2 separate regions of the Homo sapiens genome follow, and region 2 is linked to region 1. The links come from fine-mapping of genetic effects on gene expression. Tissue or cell type: subcutaneous fat. Region 1 holds a variant in brackets; the other region holds the start of a gene. All regions are shown on one strand. Distances are between the middles of the regions.

Region 1 (8,106 bases):
ACGGTTGTCATCAGTGAAAAGGGCAAAGCAACTTGAGCTCTGGGTGAGGTTTGAAGCCAGTTCCTGTCCCTTGGGGAAGAGGTTTCCTGGAGGCAGACCTGCCAGGTCCAGCTTCAGGTGAAGGTCATGGCCTGCTGCCATCTGCAGCGGCCTGGGCACCAGTTGCAACGGTTAGGGGCAGAAGCTGGGAGCAAGGGCTGAGGCAGGAGCCCCACATCATGGTGGGAACCCAGACACCTGTGGTCTGCTTGCGGGGGTGGGCCCTGGTCTAATTAGCAAAGGAGGCTCAAAAAGCAATACACAATTCATTGCCCCAGCTGAGCCACAGAATCTCTCAGAGTTCCTCAGCTGCTCCAGTGACTTAATTCTGTGCCTGTTAATTCTGTTCCTATTCCACCCACATCCCTTATGGCCTCTCTGAGGATGAAATGAGATCAGAAATGTAACATGCTCAGCCAGGGCCGGATGCATAATAGGTAGGCTCGGTAAACGTGAGAGCAAATCCCAGCTTCACCACTCACTAGCTGTGGCGCCTTGGGCGAGCTCCTCCTTGGTGCCTTAATTTCCTCATCTGTAGAATGCAGATAATAACAAAATGTACGTCATAGAACTGTTGGGGATTAAATGAGTAAATATTTGTAAAGCACTTTGAACAGTGCCTGGCACTTAGTAAGCGTGATAGCTGTTTGCTATAATATTAAATTTACTCTTTTTGTGTGTGACAGGGTCTCACCCCGTGCAATGGTGTGATCATAGCTCACTACAGCCTCTACCTCCCAGGCTCAAGCGATCCTTCTACCTCAGCCTCCCAGATAGCTGGGACTAGAGGTGCACCCCACCACACCCGGCTAATTTTTTATTTTTTATTTTTTGTAGAGACTGGGAGTCTCATTATGTTGCCTAGGCTGGCCTCGAACTCCTGGGTTCAAACAGTCCTCCCACCGTGGTTTCCCGAAGGTCTGAGATTATAAGAGTGAGTCACTGTACCCAGCCTTAAATAGTATTCCTAATGGTTATTCATGTATTTATTCATGAATTTATTCAACACGTCTTTCTTGAGGGCCCACTATGAACCAGGCACTGTTCCAGTCACTGGGGCTATAGCAGGGAACAAGAGACACTAGCCCTGTGGTAGGTATAATGATCCTCCCTGCCCCCAAAGACGTCCATGCCCTAATCCCTGCAATCCTGACTATGTGATGTTACGTGGCAAGAGAGACTTAAGGTTGCAGGTGGAATTAAGGTGCTCATCAGCTGACTGGGAGAGAGGGAGGGTGCCTTGGATTATCCAGGTGGGCCTAACGTAATCACAAGGGTTCTTAGAAGAGGGAGGCAGGAGAGTCAGAGAAGGAGGTGCGAGGATGGACACGGGGTTCTAAGTGATGTGATTCCTGGCTTCTTCCAAGATGGAGGAAGAGGCCACGACCCAAGGAAAGCAAGCGGCCTGTAGAAGCTGGAGAAAGCAAGGAACTGGAGTCCCCTCTGTAGGCTCCAGAAAGGAACACAGCACTGCCCTTGATTTGAGCACAGTCAGGTTTCTGACCTGCAGAACTGTAAGATAATACATTTCTGTGTTTTAAGCCACTAAGTTTGGTTTGCGGGGACTCGTTATAGCAGCAATGGGAAACAAATACCAACCCTTCCTCATGGAGCTCATATTTTTATAGGGGGAGCACAACAATAAAATCAACAAAATGCAGTGTGTGCAGCAGGCAGCAGCAGTCGAGCTGGCCCTTGCAAGTTGGCCATCCCGCTAGCCGTGGCCGCCCCCACTCCTAGTGTCCCTCTGTTTACCCATGGCTGAAGGGCGGGGGCTGCTCTGCCCATTGGCTTCCAGGCTCTGGCTGGACACACACTGCTAGATCTCGCTGGCTCCTGGGCTGGGGAGGGGCAGGTGCGTGGTGTCTAGCCCAGGAGTGGGTGGGACCTGCTGCCAAACTCTGGGGCAATTAGCATGTTCCTAGATTCCTGTGGGCGAGGAGATGAGAAATCGTGATTTGTCAAGGCCGGTTGGGAGTGAAAGCCAAAGCCAGGAGGCCGCCTCTGAGTCTCCCGGGTTTCTGTAATTATAATTACTTGATTGGGCATAATAAGGTGCATCCGAATCTTCCCATTAGGAGGCCATAAAACAGCACTTGGGCTTTCATCTTGCCCAGCTGCTTACTGAAACCTCCCTCTTTTATCTTCAATGCCTTTAATTGACAGGTCTGAGCCCAGGGAGCTACTTCTGGAGATGCTGTGGTCTGGGGTGGATCCTGCCTTCTCAGCCCCTGCCTGTTGAAGTCACTGAAGTCTCTGCTGCATCTCCGGGCTTCTGCTGAGCAGGGCTGGAAGGTCTTGCTTGAGGAGCTGAAGCCCACCAGCAGGTGGGGTTTGCCACTCAGGTGTAGCTCATAGACCTTGAAAGGATGGTGCCTTGTGGCCCATGTTCAGGAAGTCAGGTTGAGCACTGCTCAAGGGCACCTACATCTAAGGGTTATCATCAACATGGTAGACATGCTAATTTACATGAGCACACTGGACGGGAGATTGACTAGGCCTCCAGGCAGGTAGCTGGGGAGAGCACCCTTTGGCCTAAATTCACAGTGGCACTTGGGGGTGTGCACAAACTCTGCACACCTGTGCGCCTCTGTCCCATCTGCACTCCAACTGCTTGATACCCTTTAAGGCCTGATTCCAAGACCTCCAAGACTGAATCTGTCATGATTGCCTCACCTGGAGGGGCTGTGGGGGGTGGGGAGGGTGGCACTCAGTGTGTGTGTGCATGCTGCTGCCATGAGTGGGCCGTGGTGTGTGTGGACACAGCCAGGGCTGCTTATACTAACTTGACCTTTCTTATTTAACCTGAGGAAGGGACAACCTTTCCTAATTTGCACAAAAGTGCTGCATGGGCCAGCCAGCCTTTGCAGCTGCCATCTGCATGGTGAAGCCCCACCCTGGGTTTCCCTAGATAAACTTTCCATTCTCTAGTGGCCTGAACCTTGTTCCCAGGGTCAGCCTGCATGTGACCCTTAGTCTCTCCTGGCTGGGACTGGACACAGACCTGTGCCACCCCTGGGTGTCCCCTCTGGGTGTGCCCTGTGAACTAGCTACCTTCCCCTCAACCAGGAACACAGGCAAGTGGAGAACTCAGCTGGGAAAACACTCTGACCCAGGCCTAGGGAGGCAGTGGGAGAATAAGCAGTTTGGCAATAGAAATACACATCCTTCAACATAGTGATTTCCCTCTAGGGAATCTGTGCTTAAGAGATCAAGGATGTGTGC[C/A]CAGATTTTGCCGAAAGGATGTTGGTTGCAGCATTGTGTTAGCAACCGTTGAAAATAAACCAAGTGTCCATCAAGGGAAGGAGTGACTGAGTCCCAAGCAGCCCTTTATGTTCCTAGAAATCTGCCCAGAAGTCAGAGGTTTGAAACTTATGTAATTTATTTTAAAAAACTGACAGTAACATTTAAAGTTATGAGAGATATTTATATCCCACCCCCCAAATTAAAAACATTATTAAATCACTAATTATTTTCCTCCCAGCTTTATTGAGGTATAATTGACAAATAAAAATTATATCTATTTAAGGTATATGGCTTAATGTTTTGATGTTACAGAAAGATTTTGAAACATGGTAAAATGATCACCACAATCAAGCTAATGAACATATCCATGACCTCACGTAGTTACCATTTTTTTGTGTGTGTTGAGATCATTTAAGATCTACCCTCTTAGCAAATTTCAAGTATACAATACAGTATTAATAACTGTAGTCACCATGCTGTATGTTAGTTCTCCAGAGTTTATTCATCCTGTATAATTGAAACTTTGTACTATTTCACCAACATCTCCCCATATCCCCCCTTTCCCCCTGCCACCCAGCCCCTGACAGCCACTATTCTATTCTCTGCTTCTGAGTTTGACTTTTTCAGCTACCACATATAAATGGGATCAGGCAATACAGTTGTCCCTCAGTATCCTCGGAGGATTGATTCTGGAACCCGCATACCATCCCCATCTTTGCAGATACCAAATTCTGCAGACTCTCAAGTCCCTTATATAAAATGGCATAGTATTTGCCTATAACCTGTGCACGTCCTCCCGTGTACTTTACGTCATCTTTATTTTGTTTTGTTTTGTATTTTTTTTTTTAAGACAGGGTCTCACTCTGTTGCCCAGGCTGGAGTGCAGTGGCACCATCTTGGCTCACTGCAAACTCTGCCTCCTGGGCTCAAGTGACTCTCTTGCCTCAGACTCCCAAGTAGCTGGGATTACAGGCACCCACCATCACACCCCGCTAATTTTTGTATTTTTAGTAGAGACAGAGTTTCGCCATGTTGGCCAGGCTGGTCTCAAACTCCTGGCCTCATGTGATCCGCCCGCTTCGGCCTCCCAAAGTACTGAGGTTACAGGCATGAGCCACTGTGCCTGGCCAACTTTATATCATCTTTAGATTACTCATCATACCTAACACAACGTATATAGCTGTTAGGCTGTATTGTTTAGGGAACAATGACAAGAAAAGTCACAATCTTCATAGGCCTGACTGCATTTTCAATCCACCATTGGTTGAATCCAAGGATGTACTCATGAGTACAGAGGGCCAGTTCAACTGTCTTTCTGTGCCTAACTTTTTTCACTTAGTGTAATGTCCTCCAGGTTCATCCATGTTGTTGCAAATGACAGGATCAAATCACTGGATTGTGCCTAACTTTTTAGATGTAATCTTTAATATGTGTCTTAGTTTGTGTTTTCCCAAAAGTAACATCTAAAACAAAAATCTGATTGCAGGTAGTTTATTTTTGGGGTGATTCCAAGAAATGCTGATAGGGTAGAGGAGAGAGGAAAAAAAATAAGAAAAGGAAATAAAGAAAGCTATAATAAGCCGGGTGCAGTAGCTCATGCCTGTAATTCCAGCGCTTTGGGAGGCTGAGGCAGGAGGACTGCTTGAGCCCAGGAGTCTGGGGCTGCTGTGAGCCATGATCACGCCACTGCACTCCATCTGGGCAACAGAGTGAAACCCTGCCCCCCACCCCCCAAAAAAGAAAGGGAGCCAGTAAAAGATGACTTACTAAGCAAATTACCTATTGACAATGTGGTCCTGCAGAGCACACACAGTAGGCCCCAGGGGCCAGGGGGAGTCCTGAGGCGAGTCCAGAGGCAGGCAGCTGAGGCCAGGCTTGAGTGCATAGAAATGGTGAATGTGGTGGAGGTGACAAGGTGGAGCACTGATAGCTAGAGACAAGTGTGTCTCTAGATTTTGTATGTTTTTCTTTAATCTTTTTTTTTTTCCTTAACAATTGGACCTACAGGTGGCAGACAAATCCAGAGGGTATTCATTGGAGGATGAAGATTTCCTGCCTCTGGTATGCATGATTTCCTCTTTGTCACAATTTGATTTTCAAAGGCAGCAGCATTTCTACATTTCTATTTTCCGCTGGTTTTTATAAAATAGTAAGAAGCCGGGCATGGTGGTGTGCACCTGTAGTCCCAGATATTTGGGAGGCTGAGGTGAGCAGATTGCTTGAGCCCAGGAGTTCAAGACCAGTTGGGTAACACAGCAAGACCCAGTCTCTCAAACAATAACTAGATAGTTAATAAGAAATATTATCTCCAAGTAAGTGCTCTAAGAAAAAACAATGGCTAAGACTTATGAACACATACCATAAGCCAGGTTTGCTTCATTCTAATGGCAATGCTCTGGGGTAAATATTACTGTTATTGCCATTTTACAGTTAAAGAAATGGAGGCCCAGGGAGGTTAAGTAATTAGCTCAAGGACACACAGCCATTAGATGACAGAGCCTGGCAGTCTAGCCCCAGAGTCCATGCTCTTAATCAGCCTGCCCTGCAATGGCCATGTGACTGTTTGATATGGTCCCTCAGCTGACTTTGGAAGCCTGAACATGGCATGTGAAAGAGCATTTAGGGGTGTCAGTAATAATGCACAAAAATGTAGATTTTTTTGGTCCAATTTGAATATAACTACAGTGTGGTATAAAATGGTTTGTGGCAGGTAGAAACATTATGAACTCATTTGGGCTAGAAACATACCTTTCATATTTTCTATGACCTGAGATGAGTTTTTATTCTGAGACACACCTCACTGAATGAAGGAAATTAATCTCAATCCATGTGAGGGCTGCCTTGGCTTTTTCCCAGGGCCAAGGAGGGTGTTTAGTACCAACCATGCTGGGGTGGTGAGAGTGAGGTGGTGGAAGGGTGTCCACACTGAAAGGGCGATATGGTTTAGGTCTGTATCCCCACCCAAATTTCATATCAAATTGTAATCGCCAGTGTTGAAGGTAGGGCCTGGTGGGAGGTGACTGGATCATGGAGGTGGTTTCCAATGATTTAACACCATCCACCTGTGGCTGTCTTGTGATAGAGGTCTCTTGAGATTTGCTTATTTAAAAGTGCATAGCACCTCCCCTTTTCTCTTTCTCCTGCCGGCCATGTGAATATGTGCCTGCTTCCCCTTCCCCTTCTGCCATGATGGTAAGTGTGCTGAGGCCTCCCCAGAAGCAGAAGCCTGTACAGCCCATGGAACCGTGAGCTGATTAAGCCTCTTTTCTTAATAAGTTACACAGTTTCAGGAATGTCTTTACAGCAGTGTGAGAACGGACCAATACAGAGGACCTCCTTGCCGTTCATTACTGGGTCATGGTCCACACCTCCATCCTCACCCTGGCCTTGAGTCCTCTTTGGGCACACTGGCTCTGCAACAGAATTTCCATGCCCTGTTGGAATGCAGGGACATCACCCTAAGGCCACTGGCCGCGCTGAAAGGCCCAGCTGCCCTCTGCTTTCTGAAGTCACTCCCTACATCTCTGCGCCGCTGTGTGTCCCACCCCACAGGAAGAGATTCAACCTGGGAGAGGGAGGCAAGGGGAGGAGGCACCAAGTCTTTTATTTCTATTTTTGCTTCCAAGGGTGAAAAAAATGGCTCTGTCTAGAGACTGTATACCTCCACAGTTGGTGTATCAGCTATTCCAGATTCCTTTCCGTCCCCGCTATCCTAGTTGTCTATTGTTGCATGACAAACGCTGAAACTTAGTGGTATAAAACATACATATTATTTTGGTCCAGGCTTGCCAGATAAAATACTGCAAATCTTTTACCTGTAAATACTGTAAATATTTTATCTTCAAGCTTAAAAAATTAACTTCTATCTCTACTACACAGATAAAAATTTAAACTGAGTTAAACTTGAATTTCAGATAACGTATAATTTTTTAGTGTAAATATGTCCCATGCAATCCCATGTAATATTTGAGAGCTACCTAGACTAAAAAATTATTCCTTGTTGATCTAAAATTCAAATGTAACTGAACATCCTGTAGTTCTATTTGCTAACTCTAGCAACCCTATTTTGGTCGCAGCAGTGTGGGTCAAGAGTTTGGGAAGGGTTTGGAGAGAGCCGAGGGATCCACTTGGAAGGAGGCTTTTCATGCACGTGTCTGGGGTGCCAGGGGTGCTCCTTGGCCTCCTGCCCTTTCTTCACATGAGGTCTGATCTCTGGTGCTTCTCCACGCAGCTCAGGATTCTCACGGTGTGGCTGCTGCAGGGAAGTCAGATCACCTACGTGGAGGCCCAGGGGCCTGGCTCTGGAAACAGGAGGCAGAAGCTGCCAGTCTCTAGTCTTGGGCCTGGCAACTGGCATAGCATTACTTCCGCCCTATTCCATCGCTCAAGCAGTCACAGAACCCACCTGGCTTCAGCAGGAAGGGGCAAGGACCCCGCCTCCTAATGGGAGCAGTGGTGAAGAATTTACAGTCATCTTTAATCTGTCATACCCGCTGAGAAGAAATAGATTTTCTGCCACCTGAAAAGTTGAAAGTCACATGTGTTTTTCTCTTACATCATGGCTTTCCTGAGGTGATGGCAGCAGCTCAGTCCAGCTGCCGTCTGATTGGGCGAAGGGTCCTAGAAGAAGGAAATACAGGAGGGGAGGAATCTTGGCTATTTCAAAATGTCATTCCTTGCATTTATGCAACCAAGGAATCCACGAAGTCAAATCATACGTAACAATTCAAAAGATCTTCAGAAAGATCTTTTTAAAATTTTTTCTTTTTTAAAAAATATATTTTTTCTTTTGAGACAATCTCACGTTGTCGCCCCGCCTAG
Region 2 (8,106 bases), 56 kb after region 1:
CCCGGCCTCTTTTTCTTTTCTTTATCTTCCTTTCTTCCTTATTCTTTCTACCCTCCCTCCTTCCCTCCTTCTCTCCCTCCCTCCCTCCCTTCCTTCTTCTTTTTTCTCTCTCTCTCTTTCTTTTTTCTATTTTTGAGACAGAGTCTTGCTCTGTCGCCCAGGTTGGAGTGCAGTGGTGTGATCTCGGTTCACTGTAACCTCCACCTCCTGGGTTCAAGAATTCTCTGGCCTCAGCCTCCCAAGTAACTGGGATTACAGGCGTGTGCCACCACACCCAGCTAATTTTTGTATTTTTGGTAGAGACGGAGTTTCACCATGTTGGCCATGCTGGTCTTGAACTCCTGACCTCAAGTGATCCACCCACCTCAGCTTTCCAAAGTGCTGGGATTACAGGCATGAGCCACCATGCCTGGCCTCTTCTTTTCTTTCATCTGCTAGGTAAGGGATTCGATAAATATTCCTCTAAAGTTTGCCCTAACTTTAGATCTTTCATTTGAAGAGCTGAGCTGTATAACTCCTAGACATAGTCACAGCCCAGCAGGACATCCCATGGTGACTGCTTAGTCCAGAGGAAGGTGAGTTGTGACATCCTTAACCCATTCCTCTTCTCTCTCCAGGAAGATGGTCAGCAAGGGTGGCTTGTGTGAGGTGGTGAGTGGCTCTGGCCACTGGCTCAAGAAGTCCCCAGGTTTATCTCCCTCCATGCAGTTAACCCTTCTCAGTTCCCAGGTTGCCCTGCGTCCAAGGAAAAGCTCACCTCTCAGCCCTCAGATGCACCCACCTAGCAAGAGTCTTTCTTATCTGAGCCCCCTGAGTTAAAAAGATTGGGAGTAGGGTAGGGGAGAGGAGGCAGAGGTTCTGGGAATGCATTGGTAAGTTCTAATTTTTAAGTTGCTTGAACTTCTGTGCTGAGCAATGCTATCTTTGTTAAACTTGGTTGGCCCACAGTGCTCCTGAAATAGCATTAAGCTTGTTTTAATCTGAAGGGAGAATGTTGTGCTATTGGTAAGGTGATAAAACTGTAAAAAAAAAAAAAAGAGTAATAAAGAATACAGCTCCCAAAGCACTGTGGTCTTCTTCTTCTTCTTCCTCTTCTTCCTTTTTTTTTTTTTTTTGAGATGGAGTCTCGCTGTACGAGCAATTCTCCTGCCTCAGCCCCCTGAGTAGCTGGGATTATAGGCATGTGCCATGATGCCCAGATGATTTTTTGTGTTTTTTAGTAGAAACGGGGTTTCACCATATTGGCCAGGCTGGTCTTGAACTCCTGACCTCAGGTGATCTGCCCACCTCAGCCTCCCAAGTGCTGGGATTACAGGCCTGAGCCACCATGTCTGGACAGCATTGTGTACTTCTGATTATTCATCTGTTGCATTATAAGTTACATGAGTGCAGGAACCACATTTGGTTCGGAGTAGGGTTTGTTAAATGAATGAATGACTCTGTCTCCATCTCTATCCACCACATGGGTGTCTCAGGTCCAGGCCAATAGCAAGAGGCTTTATGTCCAGTGTAGTTAAGGTGGGGACAGATGTAACACTGCTTCCTGAAGCTCCTCACTGCCTTGGGTTTCCTGTATCACTCTTCTAAATAAGGTAGGGCCAGGCCAGTGGAGTCTCCTCTCCCTTACAGTGCCCTGGCCTGAGCTTGACAGACTGTTTGGATGGACTGGGAGTGGGTCAGGCCTAGAGCAGCTCTTTCAGGGTTAGACTTGACCTGTCAAGTACCCTAGAGGCATGGGCAGTGCTGTAGAGGCCCCAGCACATAGTGTTTAGGCATGTAGATTCTGGAACCAGATCTGGCTCAAATCCGGACTCTGATACTTACTAACCATGTGATGTTGACCAGTTGCTTTACCTCACTGGTCTCAGTTTCCACATCTGTGAAATGGGATGATGATACAATACATACCTGTCAAGCCAGGCTTAGATGAGATCACGTGTGAAGGGCACTCCCCAGGCTGGCATCACAGGCAGATTTCCATCAGAGTGGAGTGCTGGCCCTCTGAGAGTACAAGCTGACTGGGCCTTGCAAACTGGGTAGGAACAGCTTTTGCTGGAAAGTTCATCTACAGGAAGTTGATTGAATTCTGAAGAGAGAGCTAAGAGAGCTGCCAGGTAGGACAATACCTGGTAAACACCAAAGGGCTGAGAGTAGGATCACATGGCAAGAAGTAGAGTAGAGAAAAAATAATAATAATCTGCAGGTTTGGGGAGGCAAACTGTTCTGTTTGCACTTGTCTGGCAAGGGAACATGGTGTCTCCTGGAGGTGGTCTTGTGCTGGGGAAATTCCAGCAGCCTGGAGCCACAATACTGTTTCTCACTGCTCAAGCCTGCCTGTTTTCCTCTGCCTAGGTAGCTCAGTTCCAAGAACACTTATTGATGCTTACACCGGGCCAAGCCCTGTGATGGGCCCTGGGTTCCAGAGGTGAGTCAGACATGGTTCCTGCCCATGGAGATCCCCATTTCATGATAACTGCTACAAGAGCCGTTTAAACACAAGGTGTTTTACAGTAGTTATAGTCTACAGAGTGCTTCTGATTGCTCACTAGGCCCCACTCCATTCACACTGTGTTGTCTGTGAATGTTGCTCTCTGGAGCTGTGGGGGGTAAGGGTAACCCGGGAAGGTGGGCAGAGCAGAGATTAAGATAGGGATATGACAGCCAAAGGTAGAGGGTGTTTAGGTGATCTGACCAAGGTAACACAGGTAGTCTGCACCACCGCCCCCTTCCCACTAGCTTTAGCCAAGCAAGGCCAGGTGAGGGGAAGATCCTATTAGCTAGCAAGGAGGTTTGCGGAAGCTCAGGGTGGTCAAGGAGCCGAGCAAAGAGGGAGGTCCACAGGACGTACACAGTCGGTACTAGAAGTGCCATGCTGCTCCCCCATGTCCAAAAGGGGATGCCGTGTCTTGCTTTCCAGCCGCCTAGACCAAGAAGCGTGAGGCCCAGGCCCTCGCCGCTCCCTTGATACCCGCTTACCAACACCGGGGGTTTCATCTCGCAGCGCCACCACGCCCCACTCCCAGCAGCCCTCCCCTGGTCTCCGCCCTGTGCGGGTCAGGGTGGGAGCGCCCGGCCACTCCCTGCGTTCTGGGCCGGGCTACAGCCCACGTGCGCCGGCGGCAGCGGCGGTGACAGCCGGCCCCACGGGGGCGGGGCGGGCTCCGTGCTGTCCTGTCATTGGCCGCGCCGCTGTCGGGGGCGTTCCCCAGCCCGGTCCACCGCGCGGCGCAGAACCGCAGGCGCTCGGCTGGCTAAGCCTGCGCCGGGCCGCCTCGCTCGCTCCCAGCTCTGTCAGTGGCCCGCGGGGCCCGATCGCTGCGCCCGCGGCCAGGGCCGAGGCAGGCCTGACCCGGGGCCGGGCAGCCCGCGCGACTTTCGGTAAGGCGGGGGCGGCGCTGGCCTCAGGGTGGGGAGGGCGGGCGGGCGCGGGTGGGGACCGTGCCAGCCTCGGCTGGACTCTGCGCCGTGTCCAACGCCCGGGAGGGTCAGGTGCGGCCGCAGCATCCCCCGCCTCAAACCCACCCGGCGGGGCGCACAGTGAGCAGGTGGCGCTGCGACGAAGCCCGGGGCGGCCCTGGCCGGCCTCTGAACCAATTAGAACGCAATAAAAGCCTCCCACCGGCACGCCGAACTACCTCTTACTCCGCTCCGCAACACCCAAACCCTGCAGTTCCAAGCCTAGAAAATCGCAAGCGCCAAAACGGGGTGGGAGTGACGCGCCTGCAGTGCTGCCTGTCACCTGGCAGAAGACCATCCCCAAACTTCCCAGGATTGGGGCTCCGAGCCTTGCACGCCCCGTTCCAGCTCTTCACTGGGCGCCCTTTTCCCCCTCCCCTGTCCCCTCCCTCTTTAGTAACAGGAAGTTAAGTTGGGCCAAATGTCAGTGGCCTGGCTGGCCGCGGGCTGGAGCCCAGTCGGGATGGGGTCGTGGCAGTGGTCCGAGGGGCCGCGGCACTGTCCGCTCTGCATCGCGTCTCCCGCATCCCCAGTAGCCCGCTCTCGCTCCAGGCCCAGGAGCACCCCCGCAGGGTGTCCGCGGCACCCACCCTGTAGGTGCCTGGCTGGCCCCGGGGAGAGGTGGGATCTTGCCCACAGCGTCTAAGCCGCTGCCGGGCCAGACGGGGCAGGTGGGGTAAATTGTATTCACCGCCAGCCTCACTGGCAGAGCTGGGAACGGCCTTTACTGGATGGGGATGAGGGGATGTGGAAACCAGAGTAGTGTGCCTCCTTCCACATTGTTTATTCTGAGGCCTGGGTTCTTAAAGCGGAAAGAGCTTTTATTTGGAAGCCTGTAGGGCCCCGCCAGGCCTACAGCAGTGTGCCGGCTCTCTTGCTGTGATTGTCGCCTGTTAACTACAGTCTACAATGATTTTGGTGAAGGATGAAGTCACCAGCCAGGCCCCTTGTGGGCTGGTCCCACGGGAGAAAAGCCAGAGGCGAATTGGCCCTCCAGTGTTTGTGCCAGGTTCCCTGACACCTGCACTTACTCTGTCCTGCTCCCCCTCCCCAGTGGCAGTCGACCCAACAAGTGGGCCTCCGGTCTCCAGGGTAGTCCTGTGCAATGCCCTGGAGACTCTAATACCGTAAGAACTCACTTTCTTCATGCAGAGAGAAGACGGACTTATTAAGTGCCTACTGGGCAACAGGTCCTGTCTTGTGGCACTTTTGCAGCCAATTTCATGGTTATTCCAAAAACGCTGAGAGTTTTGCCCTCCCCATTTTAGAGATGGGGAAAGAGGCTCAGGTATGGTAGGTGCCCAAGGTCACACAACAAGTGTCTGAGCCAGGTCCTGGCCCTGTCAGTGTGAGTCCAGTGCTCTTGTTTCATGGCTGTGGGAAGTGGTGTGCTGTGTGCAGGACCATGGCCCCACAGCGTGCTGACTAGAGCCTTCCAGCCTCTGAAAAGATGCTCTCCACCAGGATTTCAGGGGATGCTTCTTTGGCAAAACAGTTGAAGTGACCCAGGTTAGCCAAGTTGTTCAACCTGCAAACCCCTTATCCTCCCCCTAGTCAAGAGTAGTGGATAGTGTTGGCCAGATTGCTATGGGGAGGGATTGGGTGCTATTTTGGAAGGAAGCCTGCTTCTACCATTGACCTGGCCTCACCTCTGAGAAGCTGGCTTCTGGTATAGTCTAGGAGGACTGTGTTAGCTGAAATAACCTCTACCTTAGGACTGATTCTAGTTTCGTGGGGCTTTTGGGGGTGGGGGGGCAGGTGTTGGGGTGTAGTGTTATGGTTGTGGGGTAATTGAAATCCAGTTTGAACATACCTCTATAAAAACATGACATCACTTTTATCTCCAGCCCCTTCTTCCTTTAGGCCTAGGGCTCTGGCTTTCTGCTCATCCCCTCTTTCAAAAGAAAATCATGATAAGTCATGATTTTCATGACTTATTTTCATGATGTCATGAAAATCATGAAAACTGATACCAATCCATTATACTTTAGTATAAATCAGCTTTTAAGAACTATGCCTGGTTGTGGCTGTGGCCATTGGAGGCCCATTCCCAGGCTGCAAGGAGCAGCCATATGATCCCAGATTCCTTCTCTGCCTATAATTGGGGTATGTTTCTGTTCTCTCCACCCACACCTGGGTTTGCCTCCCAGCCATGGGCCTGCCCCCTTTGCTTCCCACTGCTGAAGTATAGAGGTCTTGTCTTCTTGGTGGAAGCCTTGGCTCTGGCAGGACGGGACGTGGTAAGGGTAAAAGAATAACTTGGTTAAACATTGCTGATCCTAGATGTCCTCTGAGGGCTAACAGTCTCTATTCTTTAAAGAGTCAGAGAAGAGAATACTGTTCATCATGCTGAGATGTTTCATTCTTTACATCATTCTATTGTTTCATTCTGCCTCTAAAGAAGTGGGGTTAACTGCATTTTACAGGTGAGGAAGCTGAGACCCAGAAAGGTTACAACTTGGCCGGGTGTGGTGGCTCATGCCTGTAAAACCAGCACTTTGGAGGCTGAGGTAGGAGGATCATGTGAGGCCAGGAGTTCAAGGCCACCTTGGGCAACGTAGCAAGACTGCTGTCTTTAGTAACAACAACAACAAAAAAGGTTACAACTTGCCTGCATCACACAGCATGTATGAGTGCAGTTTGAGTGTGGAGAATTAAATGCTATGGGAAGCAGGAAAAGCCTGTGGCTGTCTCTGCACTCTGGAGGCTTGGCAGGCACAGCTCCTCTGCTGCGCAGTCATCTCCCTTATCCGCGGTTTCACCTTTCGAGGTTTCGGTTACAGTCAGCCATGGTCTGAAAATATTATAGTATTTTGAGAGAGACGGAGACCACATTTACATCGCTTTTATTATAGTATATTGTTATAATTGTTCTATTTTATCATTAATGTTGTAATCTCTTAAGGTACCTCATTTGTAAAGAAAACTTAATCGCTCCTGTATGTATAGAAAAAAACACAGCATATATAGGGTTTGGTACTATCCAAGGTTTCAGGCATTTACTGGGGGTCTTGGGATGTATCTCCCTGAGATGAGGGGGGGCTACAGTACTTACCCTTTCTCACCCTATATTGTAATTATTTATGAACATGTCTTCTCACCTCACTATGAAATGGCATTTAAAACACTCAGAAACTTGGCAGATTTATTTTCTGGTTTTGCAAATCCTCTGTGCTCTTTGCTCTGTATTTCCTTAGCTTTTATGCGAGCTATGTCCATGAGGGTATCTACCAGGATGTATTGCAGTCCTCTCTCAAAAATATTACAAACATTTTCACATACACAAACTCATAATGCATAATCAGCCCCATATACTCATTACCCAGCTTCCACAGTTATTGAGATTATGCCTGGTTGGCTTCCTCTCTCTCTTTTTCTCCCTTCCCCTCTGAAAGGAATATTTATTCCTGAGATATTTTAAAGCAAATGTCTAATGTCATGTCATTTGGCCTCTATATAATCCAGTATACAACTCTTTTAAAAAGGACGTTGTCTTGCATAACCACACTTCACTACTGCACGTAACAGAATTAACTGTGCTTCTTAGACATCACCTGTCCACCTGCAGATATCCTTGATTGTGTCAGAAATGACCTTTAGAGTTGGTTTGTTTGAACGAGGATCCAGTTGGTATGCCGCATTAGGCCGTTGGTCCTTTTATGCCTGGTTTTAGTTTAGAGAAGCGCCCCCTCTTTAGCCATTACCCTCTGTGTTAACTGCCCATCTCCCCTACTACATAGGGAGCCCCTTAAGACGAGCCCACCTCTTGGCTGTGCTGGATCCTCAGCACTGAACGCCGTGTCTGGGACACGCAGAGGCTCCATAAGCATTTGTCCAGTTGTATCATAGCCACTCAGGAAATGTGCTTTGAATTGATGAACCCAGTCACGGATTTGTGTGACTACCAGTGCATGTGCTTAGATAAGAGGTTTTAAAAAAATGACTTGCTTACGTGTGGACGTTTCCTCAGCACGCGTCGGTCTGTAAACATCCTAAAATAATAGAAGAACTATCTGCTGCTCCCCCTCACTGTGCTGGTTTGTGGTGGGGAGCCGAGACAGCTGCGTTTGTGCCTTGATCAGCAACCGGCCTCCACAGGTCACACGTGGGGCTGACGGAGACTGAGGTCACTTCTGTCCAAGCTTTGAATTCTGCCACAGGAATGACCATGTTATGACCCAGAAACCTGGCCCTGGGCTTGGTGGAGACCACTCATCTTTTCTTCTTCCTTCTGTCTCTGGACAGTGCTGCTTCTCCTGTGCCTTCCAGAGCCTTCTCTAACCTGCCTTACTCTTGGGCAAGTTGTGGTGCCTTCTTCAAATCACTATTCATCCACAACTGGGGCAGGTCGTGATGGAAAATAAGTGTTTATAACCTTCAAGTGTCTTGTCTGAATTTGTTCTATAGAGTTAGCACCACCACTGGCACATTTGTGGGTGACCTAATGAAGGAGACCGGAGGCTTAGGAGGGCAGGAGAAGATGTACCTTCTTCTCTTGGTAATGGACTTCACACCTGGTTCTCTCACCAGATGTCCTTAGGGGTGCTGGACACCTCGATAGGTGTCTTTTACCCATCCAGTAATGGCCCTTCCCTGCGAACAGCCCTCAACATGAAGACATGGTTTGTTTGGGGCTTTTTTTCTTTTTTT

Which allele goes with the higher level. Positions count from the first base shown, and alleles are read on the strand shown. Sizes are in standard deviations (SD) of each study's normalised expression.
In carriers of allele C in region 1, the expression in subcutaneous fat of the gene that starts at base 3,242 in region 2 tends to be lower than with A alone (small effect, 0.18 SD a copy in GTEx).

Evidence for each region. PIP is the estimated chance that this variant, and not a neighbour inherited with it, causes the effect.
Region 2: MICAL2 starts here. The variant in region 1 is fine-mapped to the expression of MICAL2 in subcutaneous fat (GTEx, PIP above 0.99).

The regions. Positions count from the first base shown.
Region 1 is chr11:12,051,018-12,059,123 of GRCh38, forward strand. It overlaps LINC02547 (long intergenic non-protein coding RNA 2547), which reads left to right. Exons shown (of 2, transcript NR_135109.1): 2 at 7,517-8,106. Among named protein-coding and RNA genes, the nearest start is that of LINC02547, 24 kb to the left of the region's middle. The variant C/A (reference allele first, on the strand shown) is at 3,265.
Region 2 is chr11:12,107,349-12,115,454 of GRCh38, forward strand. MICAL2 (microtubule associated monooxygenase, calponin and LIM domain containing 2) reads left to right here and starts at 3,242. Exons shown (of 28, transcript NM_001282663.2): 1 at 3,242-3,378. RefSeq lists a silencer at 2,936-3,605 and an enhancer at 3,148-3,851.